Linked DNA regions of Homo sapiens. The protein of the gene in region 2 interacts with the protein of the main gene of each other region in a biochemical or structural test. Each region holds a gene or a part of one and is shown on either strand. Other genes may lie near its edges. The genes, in order: CASP3 and PANX1.

Evidence for each region.
Region 1: of the proteins of PANX1 (region 2) and CASP3, one has a biochemical effect on the other in vitro, tested with the Homo sapiens proteins (2 studies listed by IntAct).

Annotation. Positions count from the first base shown.
Region 1 is NC_000004.12:184,626,958-184,632,499, forward strand, and holds the end of CASP3 (caspase-3 isoform a preproprotein), read right to left. Parts: intron 5,440-5,542; coding exon 5,311-5,439; intron 4,984-5,310; coding exon 4,808-4,983; intron 4,201-4,807; coding exon 4,080-4,200; intron 2,545-4,079; coding exon 2,315-2,544; 3' UTR 739-2,314; downstream 1-738. UniProt on the Homo sapiens protein: Thiol protease that acts as a major effector caspase involved in the execution phase of apoptosis. Following cleavage and activation by initiator caspases (CASP8, CASP9 and/or CASP10), mediates execution of apoptosis by catalyzing cleavage of many proteins.
Region 2 is NC_000011.10:94,131,648-94,138,937, forward strand, and holds part of PANX1 (pannexin-1), read left to right. Parts: intron 1-7,290. UniProt on the Homo sapiens protein: Ion channel involved in a variety of physiological functions such as blood pressure regulation, apoptotic cell clearance and oogenesis.

The DNA.
Region 1 (5,542 bases), on a different chromosome or scaffold from region 2:
CTGTGAACTGTTTGTTCATGTCCTTGGCTCATTTTCCTATTGGGTTGCTGGTCTTTTCCTTTGTATCTGAAACCTCTTTACTTAACAGGGAGACTAGAATAAGCCAGATTTTCCTCAACACTATAGAACCACCGCTTTCATATGGCCTTAAAGAACTCATTTATGCTACTCTCTACTCCTCAGAAACAGAAGTCTCCTTTTCCTAGTTAGGACAATTTATTTTGTTTCTGATTTAAAAGTAATATATTTTCATTACAGAAATATTGGAAGAAATTTAAAACCACCCACAACCCCACTTTCCTATATTCCTTTTCTAAGCATATGAAGTAAAAAGACAGCAAATTCCTCTGTCAAAATCCCAGCGCCCAGAGGAGGCCATCAGTAAACATCAACGGCTTGTTGTATATCCTCTTAGGTTGTTCTTCCCATTAGACACTTATCTTGTGGAAAAAGTTTCAAATTCACACATATGGTCATATTTAAGGCCTGAGATCTATGCAAACAAAGTATCTTCCTGGCATTGTGGTCATTTCAGGGTCAGGAACTTCTGCGAGGACTTGGGAAGCATAAGCGATCTGTCTGCCCTGATCTAACTGCCACCACCTCAAAAAACTAGGCTAGGGTTCTGGTGCTTCCTCTTTGACTCTTCCAAATCAAGCTTCTGATTAAAAACATTTTAACTTCCAATTAGTGGCACAACATCAAAAACAACAGCAACAAAAAACTCAAAGACATTGGTAATTTTAAGTTTGAATGTATATTTTGAAATAAAAATGGAAAATAACAAATTTGTACAAAATTGTCACATAGAAACACACTTTAAGATACCATTACATGCTATGTGTATTTACAAAAGTTACAGGTCTAGTAAGAAAAAAGAAACTGTCATTGACAAATGCGAGCTCATTTTTTGAGCAACAAGAAATCTCCCGTGAAATGTCATACTGACAGCCAGTGAGACTTGGTGCAGTGACGGCTCCGCACCTGCTGAGGCCTGGAGCCTGCCTCCCGGGCTGAGGGCTCAGCTCTGGCCTCCGGCTGGATGCCGTCTAGAGTCCTATGTGCTCATAGGTCTTTTTCTTTCAGTAAACAGTATAAAACATTACTATTTTCCTTTGATTGTAAACTTCAACAGAAAATAACATACTTAAGAATTTTGCTACAAAGAGTACTATGATTTTTATTGCCTCACCACCTTTAGAACATTTCCACTTCACAAGTTTCTGATTTGCTTCACTTTCTTACTTGGCGATGGCGCCCTGGCAGCATCATCCACACATACCAGTGCGTATGGAGAAATGGGCTGTAGGCCCTTCCTGCGTGGTCCATGGCTCTGCCTTCATGGAACAGGCTGAGTCATGTCTCTGCTCAGGCTCAAACCATCTACTCTCAAGTTACAGGCAGCTCAGCCCATTCATTTATTGCTTTCCTTATATTCCACTGTTTATTATTTAAGTTGTATTTTCATATGTTCCTATAGAATTTATTCACATTACCTGGCTAATAATCAACAGTTTGGGGTTTTTATATAATAGCTCTTCAGATATATTGCTGGTATATGAAGCTCAACTGATATGCATAGGGACAAATCAGAAGATATTTATGCTGGTAGATCCAGGGGCATTGTAGCACCTTACAGTTAAAACTCCACCCCTCTATGAATGTTAAGTTTTAGCCTTAAAAGTCAAGTTAGTTTGCTCACACTTTCTCTCACATAAAATATTAGTTTCTTTCTCAATATTAAACATTATTATTATTTTTTTACAACAAAAGTGTTCAGGACAAACATCACAAAACCATAATCCCAGATAAATGGTCTAAAAATGCAGTTAAGTCATCCGTGTATATCAATTCTAAAATAAAGGTTTGAGCCTTTGACCATGCCCACAGATGCCTAAGTTCTTCCACATCATCATTTCTACAGTTTGACAAAACTAGAATACACAGTCTTAAGTGGGGGGAATATCATAAAAATTCATTACTTCAATGTTTAACTTTTTCACAATTACTTGAAAATTCATAGCACAGCATCACTGTAACTTGCTAATCATGAAAGCTGTAAATTAACAATCATTGCCTCTCATAATGACTGCACCAGTATCCATTTTTATTTATTCCTAATTTAATTCAATTGCAACTACCTGACTGGAAGTTTGAGGTAGCTTCATAGTGGTTCTATTTGATGGAAGGAGTATGTCTTAAAGTACCCTCTGCAGCATGAGAGTAGGTCAAAATGAGAGGGAAATACAGTACCAAATATACCATCTTCTCACTTGGCATACAAACTAAAAAAAACCACCAACCAACCATTTCTTTAGTGATAAAAATAGAGTTCTTTTGTGAGCATGGAAACAATACATGGAATCTGTTTCTTTGCATGAAAAGTAGCGTCAAAGGAAAAGGACTCAAATTCTGTTGCCACCTTTCGGTTAACCCGGGTAAGAATGTGCATAAATTCAAGCTTGTCGGCATACTGTTTCAGCATGGCACAAAGCGACTGGATGAACCAGGAGCCATCCTTTGAATTTCGCCAAGAATAATAACCTAAAAGGCAAAATACAAGCAAAATACCATGGATAGCTGATTTTAGTTGATTCTATAAATTATTATGTAGTCATAAAGGCAAAAATAAGCATAAACTTACATAAGTCTTATTAGTCATACAAATAAAAAAAAAAAGACACCTTTGGTTTCAGAAGAAATGATGCTGAAGGACGAATGTGTGCTATGCGTACACCCCCTGCTTTCAGCAAAGCTGGCCGGGGACCAGCTTCACGAACACTGAATTATTGAAAGTTTTACTTTCTGGACTCCCCTTTCAATAGGCAAGAAGAGCAAACACGCAGAAGGTAAGATGCAAAAGTAAAGATGTATAAAAAGGATCATTGTAAGTAGCACAGTGTTCCAATCAGATTTCACCTTATTTTAATACTGACTTAGCCAAGAAACAAATTGCTTTGAGTGTCCTACTTGTCTACAGAGCATCTGAATAAAGTATAATAAACACACTACCAAGTATTGGTCCAAAAAGGGAAAATAGTATATTTATCATACTTTTTTTTCTAGGTTAACTATTAGACCCATTGCTTTTAACTTAGAGGTACTTTGCTTGGAAAGATGCCTAGAGGATAAGATAAACCATATTGAGCATATTTTAAAATGCAACACTGCTTAAGAATACATTTACCTAAAGTTTCCAAACTCTCCGACACCCTTAGCTGTGTGAGTAAATGGTGGTATAATCCACAAATGTTTATTTAGATGATGACGTGTGCAGCAGAACAGTAAAAACGTGGAGGTTAACGGCACATTCATGTATCGTTTTTTACCTTCTTTTCTCCCACTCCACATCTATCCTCTTGTATACTAGTCATGTTTATCTTTTTTATTTACTACCTTTCAAATAACTCCTGAGAAACGTACCTCTCTTCTTCTCTAAGATGCAGGGGAAGCTCTGACTTGGCCTCTGTTGCCACGTAATATTCTACCTGATATTAGTAGCGGAGATCTACCTGATAAAGTCCAATGAATGACATCGTGCTAGTCTACTCTACATATGCATATTTTCTTTTCTTTTTTTCCTTTGAGACGGAGTCTCACTCTGTCGCCCAGGCTGAAGTGCAGTGGTGCGATCTTGGCTCACTGCAACCTTTGCTTCCCAGGTTCAAGCGATTCTCCTGCCTCAGCCTCCCCAGTAGCTGGGATTACAGGCGTGTGCCACCATGCCCAGCTAATTTTTCTGTATTTTTAGTAGAGATGAGGTTGGCCAGGCTGGTTTTGAACTCCTGACCTCAAGTGATCCACCTGCCTCGGCCTCCCAAAGCGCTAGGATTACAGGCGTGAGTCACTGTGCCTGGCTATATATGCATATTTTCTAGCCAAACTTTTGGCTAAAGACAACTTTTTGAGACTTCTCTTTGATGAAGGTTCCCTAAAATATAGACAAGTTTTGATATCTTTAGGGATATCAAAATCTTGACAGTCTCTGAAACACACTTTTCATTGTATAATTCTATGATCAGTCACAGTTAATTCATTTAAAATCCACATGTAACATTCATTATGTGTAACGTTCTCACCAGGTGCTGTGGAGTATGCATACAAGAAGTCGGCCTCCACTGGTATTTTATGACACGCCATGTCATCATCAACACCACTGTCTGTCTCAATGCCACAGTCCAGTTCTGTACCACGGCAGGCCTGGGTGTTAGAAAATAAATATTTATTTATAAAAATTTGTGTGTGAACACATAACTTAGTTCTAAAAAATTGAAATGCTATGTAAAAATGGATGTTAATTGGCCGGGCGCGGTGGCTCACGCCTTTAATCCCAGCAATTTGGGAGGCCAAGGCGGGCGGATGACTTGAGGTCAGGAGATCGAGACCATCCTGGCTAACATGGTGAAACCCTGTCTCTATTAAAAAAAAATTTAAAAATTAGCTGGGCCTGGTGGCAGGCGCCTGTAGTCCCAGCTACTCAGGAGGCTGAGGCAGGAGAATGGCGTGAACCCAGGAGGCAGAGCTTGCAGTGAGCGGAGATCGCGCCACTGTACTCCAGCCTGGGCGACAGAGCAAGACTCTGTCTAAAAAAAAAAAAAAAAAAAAAAAAAAGGATGTTAATTATGCTGAGTCTTTTTGATATAAGTATAAAATTAAAATTTACTCTATATCTTTTAAGTGGTAAATAAATGAAAAGTAACAATAGTTCATTAGCTTCAGGAAAAAAATTATCCTTTGGATAATTTACAGTTGAGAATAGTAACCCCTGCTTAATCGTCAATAACCAAATCACTCAGTTAGACATTACCTGAATAATGAAAAGTTTGGGTTTTCCAGTTAGACTTCTACAACGATCCCCTCTGAAAAAGTTTGTTATTTTTTTCAGGTCAACAGGTCCATTTGTTCCAAAAATTATTCCTTCTTCACCATGGCTCAGAAGCACACAAACAAAACTGCTCCTTTTGCTGTGATCTTCTTTAGAAACTGTAAAGACATTTGCAAATAAAAGGAAAAAAAATCCATGACTTTATTCAACAACTTCAGATATACTGTATGGGAACATGATGAAGAAACTGAGACTAAAACTAAGAGGTCATCTTAACCTAACCTGGGGCACGGCAACACATCTCAAACCATTTTAGGAAGTTGGCATAAATAACTTTTTTTAAACTTCTTACTAAAGTATGTAAGATTAGGGTTATGTACAGTATAATTCCACAATTCTCATATTTTATTATACATATAATTATTGCTAGACCATAGTATAAAATTAATTGTACAATGAAGTTCATTCTAATTGTTTCTTCTTACCATCACGCATCAATTCCACAATTTCTTCACGTGTAAGATCATTTTTATTCCTGACTTCATATTTCAAGTTTCTGAATGTTTCCCTGAGGTTTGCTGCATCGACATCTGTACCAGACCGAGATGTCATTCCTTGGAACAGAAAGAATTACTTTTAATTGTATGGAAAACAAAGAATAACTACTTTGAAATGAAATTAACTACTCAGCAATTCAGAAGTCCACAATAAATTCTT
Region 2 (7,290 bases):
TCCAGGGGAGGACAGACATGTGGGATGAAGCTAACAGGACCAGGGAAGACCTATTAGATTAGGTATACATTTAGATAAAACCAGAAGAAGGGCTTTTGAGAAGAGGGGAGAGGTACATAGATTAATACATGGAGTTGGTACAGTGGGAGGGATCATGTCATGCAGCATTTAATTTTGTGTAGTTAGTAGTATGCACTCAGCCAAAAACAAACCAAAAAAAAGAACAGCAATAAAGGGAGAATGAAGTAATTGAAATGGAGCTGGCACTTTGCCCACCATATTGGCCAGTGAACTCAGGCCCCGGGAAGACACTGAGATAAGGCCTGCAGACTTAAAACATGGCTTCATCCTTCCTCTGTTGATAATTACTGCTTCCCTCTCTGGTGCTTGGAATACTCTTTTGTTGAACTTAACACAGAGCTTTATAACCTGTCTATGCATGTTTTGCATGGAGATTGAAACTACTCTATAAACATTTGTTGTGAATTAAAGGTGATAGCTTTTGGCATCATCAGACCTTGCTAATTGATTGTTATGTGCATGATGCTGTACCTTGGCAATGGGGTGTCAGACACACGTAGGACATAAGAATCTTTCCTCTGGAAGCACGGTCTAGTAGAGAAGTTGAACGCATAACCCTCCTAATGCAGGATTCATGGAACCTGGGCAGTGTCAGAAGTGTGTACTAAAGCCTGATGCTGTGGAAAGGCAGAAGGAGGGGTTTCTTCTGACTCATGAACAGTGAGAGTTTCAGGGCAGAGTTGGCCCCTGAGGCAGGATTCCAAGTGTGTGGAGCAGTGTTGGCTGAAGCTGAGACGTGTGAGACAACATGTGGCTGCTGGAGCTTTAGTGGCACCGTCACATGGAGAGGTGGGAGCCAAAGTAAGGGTCCAGGGGCTCCACATGAAAGAAGGCATAGCAAATCCCATTGTTTTCCTGTTTGTGTTGGGGGGGTGGTGTGTGTGTGTATAAAATTAGAAACGAGAAAATCAGCTGTAATTACATGTTTTTCCTTTTTCCACCTGTATGATAAACTAGTATATATAAGAATTCATCTCTTTTGATATAAAATCCCCTCAAGCGTAAAATAAATTATATTTTCCAGTTACTTTCCAAAAATTAAATTTTCTGTCAACTGTTGTTTGATAAAATAGGGTTCAAGTTGAAACTTTGTGGCGATTTTTCCTTTAAATAAATGATTTTTTACTTTAAAGAAAATCTATTAAATCAAGAAATGTGCATGGATTGTGCTTTAGATTTAAGAGCAGGTTCTCTGTGGGGGTGGGAGTGTTGTAGGTTAGAGAGAGGGAATGTCCTCATATGATAAAATACTTGGCTTCATATTAAAGGCTTCCGTTTGGTCTTTGGCCTTTTCTCTTAGTAGTTCAGCCCACTGGGCTCCTCTCAGAAAAGAGGGACTGAGCCTGCCTGGGCCACAGAGACCCATGGGCATAGCAGCAGGCTGATCTTTATCAAGCCCTGCTGGGTGCCAGCATGGTGGCTGCAGGTGAAGCGTCCACTCCTCAGAGGTTCTGGCCCCTTCCCTCCCACAGCAGTTCACGCAGGTCCTGCATGGTAGGCACTGGTGTGGGGCTACCTGGGCTGGTGGGGACTGTGTTGGGGACAGAGAGCAGAAGGGACTCTGCCTTGCTCATTCACCAGATCTTGGTCTGGCTGCCCACAATCACAGGTTGAGGGTCACTGCAGAAGTGATGTGGTCTGGAGGGGCATGGCAAGGCTGGTGCCATGGTCAAGGTGGAGGCAACTTTGGTAGTCTTTGCGGCAGCCACTCATTGGTCCAGATGTGCCCTGTGATAGTGAGAATTACAAGCAGAAACCCTCCTGAGGGAGTGGCAAGGAGACTCTTCTGAGTTGTGCCTGGGAGCATTTTGAAGGCTTTTGGACAGTGAGATACTAAGGATTGAATGTAAGAACTAAAATGTGCACCTGTCTGGTTAGGCCTGATACTTCTAGTCAGCCTTTCTAAAATACTGCAGGTGTGCCTCCTCTGAGATTCAGCTGGGTAGGGGGAAAATAAGTGACACACAGCAAAAGACAGTTTAATTGTGAGTTTGGGCTAGAAAGGCTGTGTGGTGGGAGCCAGAGAAGGGAGAATCAGTGGTTTCACCAGCCCTCATTTTTCCTTCCTCTTGTCTTCTACCATGTCTTGCCCTCAACAAGTGCTCCATAGGAATTTAGTGAAGGAAGTGCCAGAGCACACTAGGGAACTCTCCCAGAGTGGCTGTGCTGAGGGAATGGACGGAGTGTTCTGGATAAGGGTCCCAGTTGCTTGGAAGTGCGCCCTCTGAGTGCCATTTAATGATACAAGTGCTGTCCTGGGTCAGGCCTGTCCTGGCCACCTCCCAGACACCTGCCTCTGATGATAGCAGTAAAGGATGCACATCGTCATGATAGGTAAGTTGTCCCACTTGATTTATAAGCTCAGGTTATATTGCGTGTGCCTCAGATTCTTTTTTATGTTATTTTTGTGATGAGGAAGAATCTGTGTTCAGAGTGCAGAATGGTGTACTGTGGAAGAAGGATGAGTGTGATCTGTGTGGCTTGGGTACCCTATGGGTGTCACCTTGTGCAAGCTGCTGGGAGACAGTGCCTTGAGGCCCTTCATTTCTAACACATCTACTCTCAGATGCCTCTAGAAGTGCTGCACATTTCATTGATGGGGGGAGAGGTTTAGGAAATGGCTGGGCGACAGCTTTGTGTAGAATATAAGCATGATTGCATGACGTGACCTTCAAGCTCTGAAATTCTAGAAGTATTTCTCTAAAGTTATGAATTCCCTTAGTGTGCTGCAGTTATGGACTGAATGTTTGTGTCTCCCAACCGCAAAATTCATATGTCGAAGTCCTGATCCCCAATGTGATGCTAATTGGAGATCCCTTTGGGAGGTAATTAGGTTTGGATGAGATTATGAGAGTGGGACCTTCATGATGGGATGCCCTTAGAAAAAGAAGAAATCCCTCTTTCTCTCCCCCCTCCCTCTTCCTCTCCCCCCTCCCTCTTCCTCCTTCTCTCCCTCTTTCCCTCTCTCTCCCACTACCCCCCTTCCTCTCTTCTTCCCTCTTCCTCTCTCCACAAGTGCGGCCACAAGGAAAGGTGTGTGAGCACGCTGGGAGAAGGGGGCCATCTGCAAACTAGGAAAAGAGCTCTCACCAGACACCGAATCTGCTGGTACCTTGATCTTGAACTTCCCAGGCTGTGAGAAAATAACTGTTGTTTAAGCCACCCAGTCTGTGGGATTTTCTTACAGCAGCCTGGTTGAAGACAAAACTATCAACAGACCAGACTCTGAATGGGATTCATGTTTAAGGGGTCTTTTGACAGGGCCTCCTGTGCCCTGCGCTTAGGGCTGTACAAGGCCTGAGGCGTCAGGGGCTGCTTTGATTCCCTGGTGCCTCATGTGGCACATATCCCCTGGGAAGGAGAGCCCGTGTCTCCTGCCAGGATGTTTCTGGCTGGCTGGACCAGGTGGGGAGCTGGGGCAGCCAGTAGTCTACTAGGGAAAGGGTGTCTGGTCAGCCGGGGACCCTGCCTCCCTCACCCACTGACCTCTTAGTGGGCAGCCACCGTTCTGGGTAGAGAAGGACTTAGTCTTTCTGAGTTAGCACTGCTCTTTTGCTATCATTACAGGGCAGGCATTGGGCCAGCCCCAGTGAGTCAAAGGATAGATATAACTGCAGCTGCTTCCAATATAGTTTGCTTGGAGTTCCCCTTTCATTTCCTGCAACTGAGTCAGCGGCTGGGTGGCTTAAGTTATCTGCTCTGTTGTGGCTGAATTTAGACCTGTCTTTGGGAATATCTTCAGGCTGCTTTTTAGCATGTACCAGCTGGCAAAGCAGATCGATTCTTTTCAGGGTTGTCTATCAGAGTGGGCCAATATTTAGGGTCTCATGGCATAGGTCCTATAATAGAACATCTTCAACTCACACTAAACCAAAGAGCCAAGAGAGACTCCTAACCCCTCCAGAAGGATGCATGCTGTCCAGAGAGTCTACTGTTGGATACATGTTTTACTTTGTTAATATTTTTCTTGTACAAGTAGTAGCTAAATACATCATCATGGTAAAGGATTCATAAATCTCTTTCACTATGTGCTGAAGGTAGGTGGACACTTTGTGCAGCCTTATTGCTGTACTTTGTCTGCATTAGCATAACGTGTACACCTTATTTTATTTTTTAAAACAAATCGAGTCATACCATAGTGGCTTGCTTTTTCTCACTTAGTATGTTTGGAGAGCTTTCCGTGCCAGTACATAGGTGTCACCTCACTGTTTTATAATAGAACAGTATTCCATAGCTTAGAATATACTTACAATTCATCTAAGCAGTCCCCTAATGATGGACATTTACTTTCTTTCAAAATTTCTACTCACACATAAAGCTTGTTTGCATGAAAATCTTCGTAAATATTTCTCTCCTCCCAGCATTAAAAGGAAAGGAGACTAGTCGCAGCAGTATCAGTTTCCAGAAGGATGACATCATTTTCCGAATAGTTTTGCATTCCTGCGTTCCTATTTGAAATAAGTGGAAGAAAAAAAAAAACCACTGCCCTGTACACTATCCAGCTCTGACTCCCTCAAAATGTGACTGCATTAGAAGTTTGGAAGAAGCATTTTGATGTGCTCTTGGTTTTAAGAAAGAAAGGGCCTCCTTCAGGGGGTAGAATTGCAACTTTAAGTAGAACTTCATGATACATGTTCTCCTAACACTGTAAGTTTCCTTCCTAACATTTACCATAACTTGAAGTTAGGTAATTACTTGCATACTTATCTGTTGAATACTGTAAGTTCATTTAGGGCAGGGACCATGTGTCCTTAAAACTTGATACATATCGGCCGGGCGCGGTGACTCATGCTTGTAATCCCAGCACTTTGGGAGGCCGACGTGGGCGGATCACGAGGTCAGGAGATCGAGACCACGGTGAAACCCTGTCTCTACTAAAAATACAAAAAATTAGCCAGGTGTGGTGGCGGGCGCCTGTAGTCCCAGCTACTCAGGAGGCTGAGGCAGGAGAATGGCGTGAACCCGGGAGGCGGAGCTTGCAGTGAGCCGAGATCGCGCCACTGCACTCCAGCCTGGGCGACAGAGCGAGACTCCGTCTCAAAAAAAAAGAAAAAAACTTGATACATAGAAGTATTAGGCAGCTCTCACATTGCTATGAAGAAATACCAGAGACTGGGTTATTTTTAAAGAAAAGTTTATGTGGCTCATGGTTTTGTGGGCTGTACAGGAAACCTAGTGGCTTCTGCTTGGCTTCTGGGGAGGCCTCGGGAAACACAGTCATGGCGGAAGGCAAACAGGGAGCAGGCACGTCTTATATGGCAGGAGCAGGAGCAAGAGAGAATGGGGGGAGGTGCTACACATTTCTAGTGGCTCACACCTGTAATCCCAGCACTTTGGGAGGCCAAGGCGAGCGGATCATGAGGTCAAGAGATCGAGACCATCCTGGCCAACGTGATGAAACTCCGTCTCTACTTAAAATACAAAAATTAGCTGGGTGTGGTGGCGCATGCCTGTAGTCCCAGCTACTTGGGAGGCTGAGACAGGAGAATCGCTTGAACGCGGGAGGCAGAGGTTGCAGTGAGCTGAGATCATGCCACTGTACTCCAGCCTGGCGACAGAGCGAGACTCCTTCTCAAAATATATAGACAGATAGATAAAACCTGAAAATAGGCCTTAGGACCTTCATGGACTCTAGGTTTGGATTAGCAACATCCCTTTAAAAAACCATGCAAACACCTTTTTTCTGCAGCTGGTTGCTTTCTTGGATTGCTTCCTTGTCAAACCCCTAACTGAGGCAGCGAGAGCTTGGTCCAAAGTGGAGAAAGGGAGGCAATTTGGGGGCATTTGCCCTGGCTAAGCTAGGAACTCTGGGCGAGGCAGGCCCCGCTGCATGCTGTGGGGTTTCTGGGGGCAGCAGGGAGACATTAGTTACTTGGGGAGAAGGGGGCCTAAAGAGAATCTACCATCTGCTTGGTACCAGGCACACCTAGTTCTGTGGGGGGTGAAAGGGGTGGTGGGGAGGGGACGCTGTTGTTTTTTAATAAATTCTCTATAAAGCTCACACTCCTTTTTAAAATATAAATATTTATATATGTATATTATATCATTATAAAGATAAAACTTACTGTAGAAAATATGGAAAATACAGAAGAGAAAATAGCAGTACATCTATAATACTACCAGGGATAACTACTATTCTTGAAAAACCAAACACTAAGTCAAGGCCATGTTACCATGTTCCTAAATTGTTGTACATGATTTTTTTTGTTGGCAGTGACATGGAATGTTGTGCACGTGTCAAAATTTAACTGTTTCACAAGTTTTGTAATATAAATAGCATTGTGAAGAACACTCCTGTACATAATAAACCACCTCTCTAAAGATCTCAGTATTTCAAGTGATTGTATAATTCTAATTACAAGGTCAAAGTATACATAGACATTTTTAAGATTTGACTGGTGTGGTTGGGTTGCCCTCTGGATAGACCCCCAATGGATACTTCTCCCCGCAGCTGAAGGAGTGGCTTTCCCCACAGCTGGCAAAAGTTAGTGGATTATCGTCCACAGCTTAATAGGTGAACAAAGGTGTGCCATTGTTTTAAGTCGCATTTATTCAGTTACGGCATTGAATGTTTTTTCGTATGTATTTTTTCCATTTATATAATTCTGTGAATTGTCTGTTCTTATCTTTTGCTTATTTTTCCAAGGGGATGTTGGTTTCTCAATGGGTTTTATTAACTATTTCTATGTTTCAAATATTTTCTAGCTAGCCTTTATTGTATTTTCTTTTCCGGTTGTCCGTTTCCTTTGAATTCTGTTTATGTTAAGCATTTTTGTTTTTTAATTTTTAATTTTTGTTGGTATGTAAAGGTATATATTCATGGGGTATGTGAGATATTTTGACACAGGCATACAATGTGTAATAATCACATCAGGAGAAATTGGGTATCCATCTCCTCAAGTATTTATCCTTCGTTACAAACAATCCAGTTGTACTCTTTCAGTTATCTTAAAATGTAAAATTAAATTATTATTGACTACAGTCACTCTATTGTGCCATCAAATACTGGATCTTATTCATTCTATTTTTATGCCCATTAACCATCCCCATTTCCCCTGACAGCCATCCCTCAGTAACCTTTACAGTATAAGTTTTGATAAGCAGAAGTTATTTTAAGTCATCAAAACTACCCATCTTTTAATTATTTCTTCAGTTGCATTATGATTAGACTGTCATAGCCCATCCTTAGGTCTATCAGTTTTTTAAAAT